Linked DNA regions of Homo sapiens. The protein of the gene in region 2 purifies or fractionates together with the protein of the main gene of each other region. This does not show direct contact. Each region holds a gene or a part of one and is shown on either strand. Other genes may lie near its edges.

Region 1 (4,210 bases), on a different chromosome or scaffold from region 2:
ACAGGCGTTGAGCCACTGCACCCGGCCAAGAGAGGTTGATTCTAAGACCTGCAGGCATCTCCCACTCTCCATCTGACTTTGAATTCCTGCCTAGTCTGCCGAGCAGGTCTGACCTTTGAAGCGCCCCGTCGCTGTCTTCCAGAGCAGGCAGCCATCGTGGATGAGTTTGCGCCTCAGAAGTTCCTCTCGGCCAAAGGGGCCCTTGCCAGGCACTGGGGTTTGGGCCCGAGGGTCCATGCGGTTGTAGATCTCCTGCAGACGGGCCCCTTTCTCCAGCTGATAAATACCCTCGTCCACATTGGACAGCAGCTCCTTCACTAGCCCCAGTGCTGTGGTCAGGTCCTGGCGCTCCTCCTCGATCCCTGGCACCGGGGGTTGGCATGGGGAACGGCTCAACCAGTTTCACTCACACCCCAGTTCCCATCGTGTCTTGATTCCACCTTTAGAGGCTGCCCAGGGTTTCACACCCGACCCCACCCTTCCTGTGGTCATACCGAGCCTTTCCTCACCCCAGGTGGCCGTCTCCCAGTGGCCCTCTCCTGGGCCTGCCTACTCACCGTGGGAATGCTGCAGGATGCGGCTGATGAGTAACGGGTACTTGGTGATGCGCTGAGTCACCAGCAGGATGCACTCCTGTACCCCGTGCCGCTTGAGCACGGCGGGGCGGGTCACTTTCTACAAGGGAGGAGGCAGGGCTCAGGGCCAGAGGGGAGGGCAACAGAAAGGCCTGGGGCCTGAGCTCTGGTGCTGGCCCTGGCGTGGCCATTTACCTCATGCTTGCCTAGGTGACATATCTGGAAAATGGGGATAACAACGCCACAGGTTTGTTGTGAGGACCAACTGAAGGAGCAAAAAGTACTTGGGAAACTACCACAACGTGCTCTAGCATTCTGAGGGGTTACTGCTGACAGGATCTGTGTATGGATGGTCTGCACGGGTGGCGAATGCCTGACCTCCATGTGGGTGCAGCTCACAGGCACTACCCCCATGAGTTGGGGAGGGTGGGTTTGGGCCATGAGCATGGGATCTGGAGAGGTCCGCTCACCCGGATGAATTGCTGGAAGCGTTTGTCTCGGGCGTACAGCTCCTTATAGAGCTTTAAGGCCTTGCTGTGGCGGCTGCAGAACTCCGAGTAGGTCTTACACATCTGCTCCGCACTAGGACCTGAGAACTAGAAGTTGGTCGAGTAAGGTTAGGTCAGCATTCCCCCAAAGCCACACTTTACCCACTGGACACACCTCTGGCCTCCTGCCAAACAGGCTGGCTTCCTGTTTCTCCAGCTCTCCCTGGCTCCCCTCCAACCCCTAGAATTTGGACCCAAGAAATGCCCAACCCAGTCACACCTCCTTCCATGAATGTCACCCAGGGGTCCTGCCTTTTCCCACCTGGCTGATGAGCAGATCACCCAAGCGATGGATGACAAAGTTCCGGGTGCTGCCAGGGCACAGGGCCTGGCGTCGGCGTTCTAATAGCTGGCTGAGGAAGCGTGTATGGATGTCACTGAGCTCGTCCACGCAGGGGAACAGGCCCTGGACCACTCCTGGCTCCAAGTGTAGCTCTTCCAGCATCCCCGTGCGGAAGAGGCGGGTCATGATCTTCAGTGTCCTCACATGGTGCAGCTCTGTCTGGATTAGCTCTGTGGGGGACATTGGGACATTTGGCCTCTACCCTGGCTTGGCTAAAACTCGTGGGGCCCTAGGATAAGGACCTCACAGTTCACGTGAGGTTTTCAAGGTCCATTCCAGGTTAATATTCTGCATTATTATGATCTTAGATACTTTTCTAATCATTTTTATCTTTTTTTTTTTTTTTTTTTGAGACAGAGTCTCACTGTATTGCCCAGGCTGGAGTGCAATGGCGCGATCTCAGCTCACTGCAACCTCCACCTCCTAGGTTCGAGCAGTTGTCCTGCCTCAGCCTCCTGAGTAGCTGGGATTACAGGCACGCACCACCAGGCCCGGCTAATTTTTGTATTTTTAGTAGAGATGGGGTTTCTTCATATTGGTCAGGCTGGTCTCGAAATCCTGACCTCGTGATCTCCCCACCTCGGCCTCCCAAAGTGCTGGGATTACAGGCATGAGCCACCACACCCGGCCCTCATTTTTATCTTTCAAAAATTTTATTATTATTTTTTTTTTTCCAGAAATGAGGTCTTACTCTGGTGCCCAGGCTGGAGTGTAGTGGCACAATGATAACTCACTGCAGCCTCGAACTTCTGGGCTCAAGCGATCCTCCTGTCTCAGCCTCCCAAGTAGCTGGGACTATAGGCACATGCCACCACACCTGACTAGTTTTTTAAAATATTTTTTAAAGACGGCTGGGCACGGTGGCTCACGCCTATAATCCCAGCACTTTGGGAGGCCGAGGCGGGTGCATCACCTGAGGTCAGGTGTTCGAGACCAGCTTGGCCAACATGATGAAACCCTGTCTCTACTAAAAATGCAAAAATTAGCCGGGTGTAGTTGTAGGCGCCTGTAATCCCAGCTACTTGGGAGGCTGAGGCAGGAGAATTGCTTGAACCTGGGAGGCGGAGGTTGCAGTGAGCCGAGATAGCGCCAGTGCACTCCAGCATGGGCGACAGAGCAAGACTCTGCTTCAAAAAAAAAAAAAAAAAAAAAAAATATATATATATATATATATATATATATATACATATATATATATATATATTTTTTTTTTAGAGACAGAGGTCTTGCTTTGTTGCCTAGGTTGGTCTCAAAATCCTGGCGTCAAGTGATCCTCCCACCTCGGCCTCCCAAATCGCTGAGATTATAGGCATGAGCCACCACGCCCAGTTCCATTTTTTATCTTTACACCTTATCATCTCAAGCTGTGAGCTATTTTAGGGTAAGAACCATATGTCTTCTACATGTCGAGGCTTCCCACAGTCTCCAGCACGGTGTTAAGCGTGGAACAAGCACAGAGTAAAGACTGAAGACAGAGATAAAGAAGGGATAAAGAGAGGGTGTTGGAGACCAACAGCATCAAGAGGTAGGGACCTAGTGGGCAACCTGTGGGATACCAGGCAGGGTCTTGTAGGCCAAGAGGGAAAGGGTTTTGAGAGGTAGGGGCTGGTAGAAAGAAGGACACAGCCGGGTACGGTGGCTCACGCCTGTAATCCCAGCACTTTGGGAGGCTGAGGCGGGCAGATCACCTGAGGTCAGGAGTTTGAAACCAGCCTGGCTAACATGGTGAAACCCCGTCTCTACTAAAAATGCAAAACTTAGCCAGCATGGTGGCAGGCGCCTGTAATGAGAATCGCTTGAACCTGGGAGGTGGAGGCTGCAGTGAGCCGAGATCATGCCACTGCACTTCAGCCTGGTTGAGAGAGTGAGACTCCATCTCAAAAAAAAAAAAAAAAAGAAAAAGAAAAATAAAGAAGGAAGTAGATAAACAGGACCTGGTGAAGGAAGAGGAAGACTAGGGTGGTCTTGGCTTACCATAGATGACATCTTGCTGCTTCATCACCTCCTTTTTATGCTGCTGCAGGAAGCTGCTGTCCACAGCAAGACTCCAAGAGTCAGCTGCAAAGTCCTTCTCATCCATCTCAAAGTCACTCATCAGCTCACTGTAGATTACCTCTGCTGGACATTAGCAGGGCAAGCAACTCAGAGGTCTTGAGTTCCCTTCCCTGGGTCCCTGGCCCTTCTCTAGATCCCTTCCCTCCTTGTCCTTCCAGGCTACTCCCACCAGCCTCTCATCCCCCAGCCCCTCTTCATGTTCCTCAGGGCTCCCCTGGGCCCAGGCCTGCTCACCTTCGTCAATGAGGGATTCCACGGATAGGGTTCGGTTCCGCATGTTGAGGGAGTCTGTGGACTGTGAGAGGATCCGGCGCAGCCCCAGGGGAGACTCATCATTGAAATGTCTGAAGAAAGTGGAGGCTGTCTGCATCACCCCCAGTCGGGCAAAAGATCCCTTCCCAGGTAGGGAACCAAAGCCAGGATCCAAGAGGCGGTCCCCCTAAGTTCTCCTTATTTGTCTGTCTACAGTTCTGAACTCAGGGATGGAAAGGGACCTCTCAGCACCCCCTTGGCCTCCACTGCCACACTCTCTGGCTGCCCCTTTCCCCAAACAGAGGCTCACCCAGCAATGTTGGTGGTAGAAACACTCTTGGCTAAAGACAAGGAGGAGCGGCCACGGCGGGAGCCCAGGAGGGACTGCCGGAAGCTGTCGGAGGGGTAGATGGCCGAGCTTGGCCGCTCCCGGATGG
Region 2 (5,397 bases):
ACAAATATACATTTAATAAAACTAAATAAATAAAAGATGGGATCAAAAGTGGGAATGAAGGGTGAAAGGAATAAGAAACTACAAAAAATGATCCATAGAAATAAAAAATTCAATAACTTTTTTTCTTTGTTTGAGCTGGGGTCTTGCTGTGTTGCCCAGGTTGGTCTCAAAACTCCTGGGCTCAAGCAATCTTCTCACCTTAAGCTTCCTGAGTAGCTGGGAGTACAAGTGTGTGCCACTTCTCCCAGCTTACAGTAACTTTGCGATGAAAATAACATGCCGTCAGGTGTGGTGATTCATGCCTGTAATCCCAGCACTTTGGGAGGCCGAGGCAGGTGGGTCACTTGAGGTCAGGAGTTCAAGATCAGCCTGACCAACATGGTGAAACCCCGTCTCTACTAAAATATAAAAATTAGCCAGGAGTGGTGGCGGGCGCCTGTAATCCCAGCTCCTCGGGAGCCTGGTTGAGGGAAGGAAGGAGGGAGGGAGGGAGGAAGGAAATAACATGCTGAAAACTTGATTCAGTAGCAGATTAGACCTCATTTTAGTTCACTGAGAATGAGTGAACTAAAAGATCTGAAGAAATCACTTAGCCCTTTAAGACACAAAGAACATTTAAGATGAAAAAGAACATGAAGGCTGTCTAATCAAAATCCCAGGTGATAATTAAGAGTATATAATTTCTAAACTAATAGAGAAGAAAAAAAAACAGGTGCTCTTGTCAAAATGCTTCTAGGTCCACATTTACTGTACAACCTAGAGGAAGTTACCTAACCTTTCTAAGCCCTGGTTTTCTCATGTGTAAATAAGATAATCAGTCCGGGCGCGGTGGCTCATGCCTGTAATCCCAGCACTTTGGGAGGCCGAGGCAGGCGGATCACAAAGTCAGGAGATCGAGACCATCCTGGCGAACATGGTGAAACCCCGTCTCTACTAAAAATACAAAAAAATTAGCCGGGTGTGGTGGCAGGCGCCTGTAGTCCCAGCTATTTGGGAGGCTGAGGCAGGAGAATGGCATGAACCCGGAGGTTGCAGTGAGCCGAGACCGCGCCATTGCACTCCAGCCTGGGCGACAGAGCAAGACTCCATCTCAAAAAAAAAAAGATAATCATGCCTACTACCTGCACAAAGGTCTTGTGACTAATAAATAAAATCCAAATATACACTAAGCACTGAACTTAATAAATGTCACTTATTGGCAATTTTTAAAAATTTTTTAAAAATTTTATCTGCAAAGTGCAGTAAAATATTAATAAAATTAAGACCGAGGGAGGAAATAAGGCTATGTGGATAATGGTTTGATGTCAAAATCAGTGGAGGGGAAAAGTAGGACATTTGACCCTTCATTTACTAATTCTGATAACACACTTCTTAGAAGGTCCAGTCACTCCTGCTCCTTTTCCATACACTGATCTGACTCTACTACACTCTCCAAATTCTCCCAAATTTACAAGTAGTTAGAGGAGAAAAAAAATATTCCAATCATTTTATTCCTCATCTGAAGTTCTGCTTAGTAAATTAAAAAAAGAAAGTGAGACACATATGTACACACAAGAAAATCACATACTCACTTTTCATTAGTTTTCCTGACAATTCTTTTAGTGGAGAAGCGGGACTATTTCTACTGGCTACTGTAAGTGTAGAGGAAGATTCTTGGGTTTCCATGGAAACTTGGTGAGTTCCTGCTCTGGCCATTTCAAGACGGAGAGAATGGGCACTGTCACATTCCTGGGAAAGCAGCAAGTGATTCTGAGTGCTGTTAGTTCTATTATTCAGGTCAATTCCTTCTGAATGAGTCATAAACAACTGTGCTGAGCCAGAATCCTCCAATCTCTTATCAAGAGAATCAGTTAAAAAAGACGCTGTAGTTTCATGCTTTTTAGATGGAGAGACAGGCTCAGCCAGTGAGCTCTGCTTCACTGTGTTTAGACTGTGTGCTCTTATTCGCGACCAAGTTGTTGAATGAAAACTTTCAGCCTCTAACCAAAATTTCACCAAATGCTCCATTCGCCGAAGTTCCATGAATTGAATGAAGTAAGGGAGGACAATAGTGTCGTGCAAGACTTGTTCAAGGGTCTTAGAAAGGCTTGATTTGGTCTCTTGAGTCTGGTAGTCCAGACAAGATCTGCCTAAAAGATAGAAGCAAAAGAATTAGCAGTTCAGCAACAAATAATTTCAGATTGACAGATTAGTCAATCACTTTTAGCAACAACTGGTACCAGAGACCTTGAATAAAGTTTACTTCCTAGCAACTAAAGTAAATAAAAAAACTACAAATACTATGCTTTTGGTTTCTAAACAAAGTACAATCGTCCAAAACTTGCCTAAATTATTAAAAAGTTATTTGTTACTCAATAATTCTCATATCTCTTTTAATGGCAATTCAGACCATGTAAATTCTTTTTTTTTTTTTTTTTTTTTTTTTTGAGACTTTTCACTCTTGTTGCCTAGGCTGGAGAGCAATGGCGCGATCTCGGCTCAATGCAACCAACCTCCACCTCCCGGGTTCAAGCGATTCTCTTGACTCAGCCTCCTAAGTAGCTGGGATTACAGGCACCCGCCACCACGCTGAGCTAGTTTTTGTACTTTTAGTAGAGATTCGGTTTCACCATGTTGGTCAGGATGGTCTCAAACTCCTGACCTTCGGCAATCCACCCACCTCGGCCTCCCAAAGTGCTGGGATTGCAGGCGTGAGCCACTGCGCCCAGCCCAGACTACATAAATTCTTAAGAAAAAAAACTTATGATACTAGTTCCAAAGGGGCCAATAAAAATATTAAAAACTATACTCAACCTCATTAAAAATCCCAGAAAAGCAAATTAACATAAAATGCATTTTTGTCTGTCAAATTAGATTTTTTTCAAAAATTATTAAGCAGTAACAAGGGCACAGGAAAATAGGCAACACTCTCATTCGCTGGTCATGAGGATGTAAACTGGCAAAACCTTTTTGGAGGAGCATTCAGGAACAGATAGCAAAGTCTTAGCAAACTGCATTATTTTCAGTCCAGTAATTCCACTTGTAGGCACTTATCCTGAGGGAAAATTGTGGATATATCTACAAAGATGTTATGAACTCAGCATTATTCATTCATAGTAGGTTAAAGAGTAGCTTTGAGATCGTACCTTGAAAAATGAAACTAAACTTAATAAAAAATCATTTATCTTATATTTAACTAAATTTAAATTATAACCACAAGCTAATTGTTAGGAAAGACAAAAAATTTTTTTAAAAATTGGCTTTCATAGCATGATCATAAAGATGGGCATTCTTATAAAACTGACTGAGGGTTTCATCAATTTGTCAAAAGAGTTCTTCTTAATCCATTGATATTCAAATCATTTTTTTGAAGCACGTCGTGTCTTCATCCTCAGTCTTACTGTCAGTGTCAACTAGTTCATCTTTGTCAACATCACAAACTTGAGGAAATTCTGATCTTCTGTGAGGTTTACAATTTCTTTTAATTAAATTCTATGAGATAATGCTAGATTCACATGAAGTTCTAAGATACAATACTGAAAGGGCCAGGCATGGTCGCTCACGCCTGTAATTCCAGTACTTTAGGAGGCTGGGGCAGGCGGATCACTAGAGCCCAGGAGTTCAAGACCGGCCTGGGGAACATAGTGAAACCCCATCTCTAAAAAAATAATAATACCTAGAGATCCCTTGTACACTTTAGTTTCTCCCATGGTAACATCTTGCAAAGCTATAGTACAATATCACTCTAAGATACTGACAGTGATACAACACTCTAACTTGTTCAGATTTCCCCAGTTTTATCTATACTCATTCTTGTTTTTAGTTCTTTGTAATTTTATCACATTGAGATTTCTGCATCCACTGCCAAGATACAACTTCAACATCACAAAGATCCCTCATGTTGCACTTTTATAACTACACCCACTTACCCCTCTCACCTCCCTGTCTCTAACATCTGGCAAACACTAATCTTTTCATTTCTCTTAATTTCTCTATTTCAAGAATATTATCCAAACGGAATCATACTATATGTAGTCTTTAGGGACTGGTTTTTGTCTGACAGCATAATTCCCTTGATATTCATCCAGGTGGTTAAATGTATCAACAGTTTGTTCCTTTTTATTGCTGAATGGTATTCCATGGTATGAATGAACCAGTTCATTCACCTGCTGAAGAACATCCAGTTTTTCAATATTAAGCTGCTATGAACATTTGTGCACAGGTTTTTATTGGAAGGTAAGTTTTCATTTATCTGGGATAAATACAGAGTGCAACTGCTAGGTCATATGGTAATTGCATGTTTCACGTCATAAGAAACCACCAGCCAGGGATGACGGCTCATGCCTGTAATCCCAGCACTTTGGGAGGCCGAGGCGGGCTGATCACCTGAGGTCAGGAGTTCAAAACCAGCCTGACCAACATGGTGAAACCCCATATCTACTAAATATACAAAAATCAGCCAGGCATTATGGCAGGCACCTGTCATCCCAGCTACTCAGGAGGCTGAGGCAGGAGAATAGCTTGAACCTGGGAGGCGGAGGTTGCAGTGAGCCAAAAATTGGGCCACTGCACTCCAGCCTGTGAGACTCCGTCTACAAATAAATAAACAAACAAACAAACAAACAAACAAACTGCCTAGGCCAGGCACAGTAGCTCACGCCCGTAATCCCAGCACTTTGGGAGGCCTACGCAAGTGGATCGCTTGATTCCAGGAGTTTGAGACCAGCCTGGGAAACATGGCGAAACCCCGTCTCTACAAAAAAAAAAAAAAAAAATACAAAAATTAGCCAGGCGTGGTGGTGCATGCCTATAGTCCCAGCTACTCAGGAGACTGAGGGAGGATCACCTGAACCTGAGGAGGGTGAGGCTGCAGTGAGTTGTAATCACGCCACTGTACTCCAGCCTGCGCAACAGAGTGAGACCCTGTCTCAAAAAGAAAAAAAAAAAGAAAGAAAGAAACTGCCTGTTTTCCAGAGCATCTGCACCATTTTAAATTCTCATCAGCAATTTATGAGTGATCTAGCAAAACTTACAATTTTACTCTCTGAGCTATATGCATTTTGTCTGCTATGTATTATTGCTAAGTGTGCCCCACAAACACATTGACACTCTGGTTTGAATATACACAAAAGTAGAGAGAGATGTCAAAAGCAGGACTGATTTTATTAGAAGTCCATTGGTTCATGGATCTTTTTTTCAACTTATGACAACATGACATGCAATTTTCTAAGTGCAGAAATTTGGGTAAGAAATACTGACAAAATAAAGGTCTCCTGCATATGTTTTTGTTTTGGAAGAACTTATTTTAATATAACGGATTTTACCATGCATACTGTGACTTGCTTTTCTCACATTTAAACATGCCTTAGACATTTTCCCACGTCTTTTTTAGATTTCTAAATGGCTACACTGAACCAG

What was found. The genes of interacting proteins can lie anywhere in the genome.
Region 1: the proteins of AKAP10 (region 2) and ARHGEF2 purify together in Homo sapiens (tandem affinity purification; one large-scale study listed by IntAct). This does not show direct contact.

The regions. Positions count from the first base shown.
Region 1 is NC_000001.11:155,961,548-155,965,757, forward strand, and holds part of ARHGEF2 (rho guanine nucleotide exchange factor 2), read right to left. Parts: coding exon 4,084-4,210; intron 3,866-4,083; coding exon 3,756-3,865; intron 3,585-3,755; coding exon 3,441-3,584; intron 1,637-3,440; coding exon 1,386-1,636; intron 1,172-1,385; coding exon 1,046-1,171; intron 676-1,045; coding exon 558-675; intron 363-557; coding exon 114-362; intron 1-113. UniProt on the Homo sapiens protein: Activates Rho-GTPases by promoting the exchange of GDP for GTP.
Region 2 is NC_000017.11:19,956,443-19,961,839, forward strand, and holds part of AKAP10 (A-kinase anchor protein 10, mitochondrial isoform 1 precursor), read right to left. Parts: intron 2,130-5,397; coding exon 1,572-2,129; intron 1-1,571. UniProt on the Homo sapiens protein: Differentially targeted protein that binds to type I and II regulatory subunits of protein kinase A and anchors them to the mitochondria or the plasma membrane.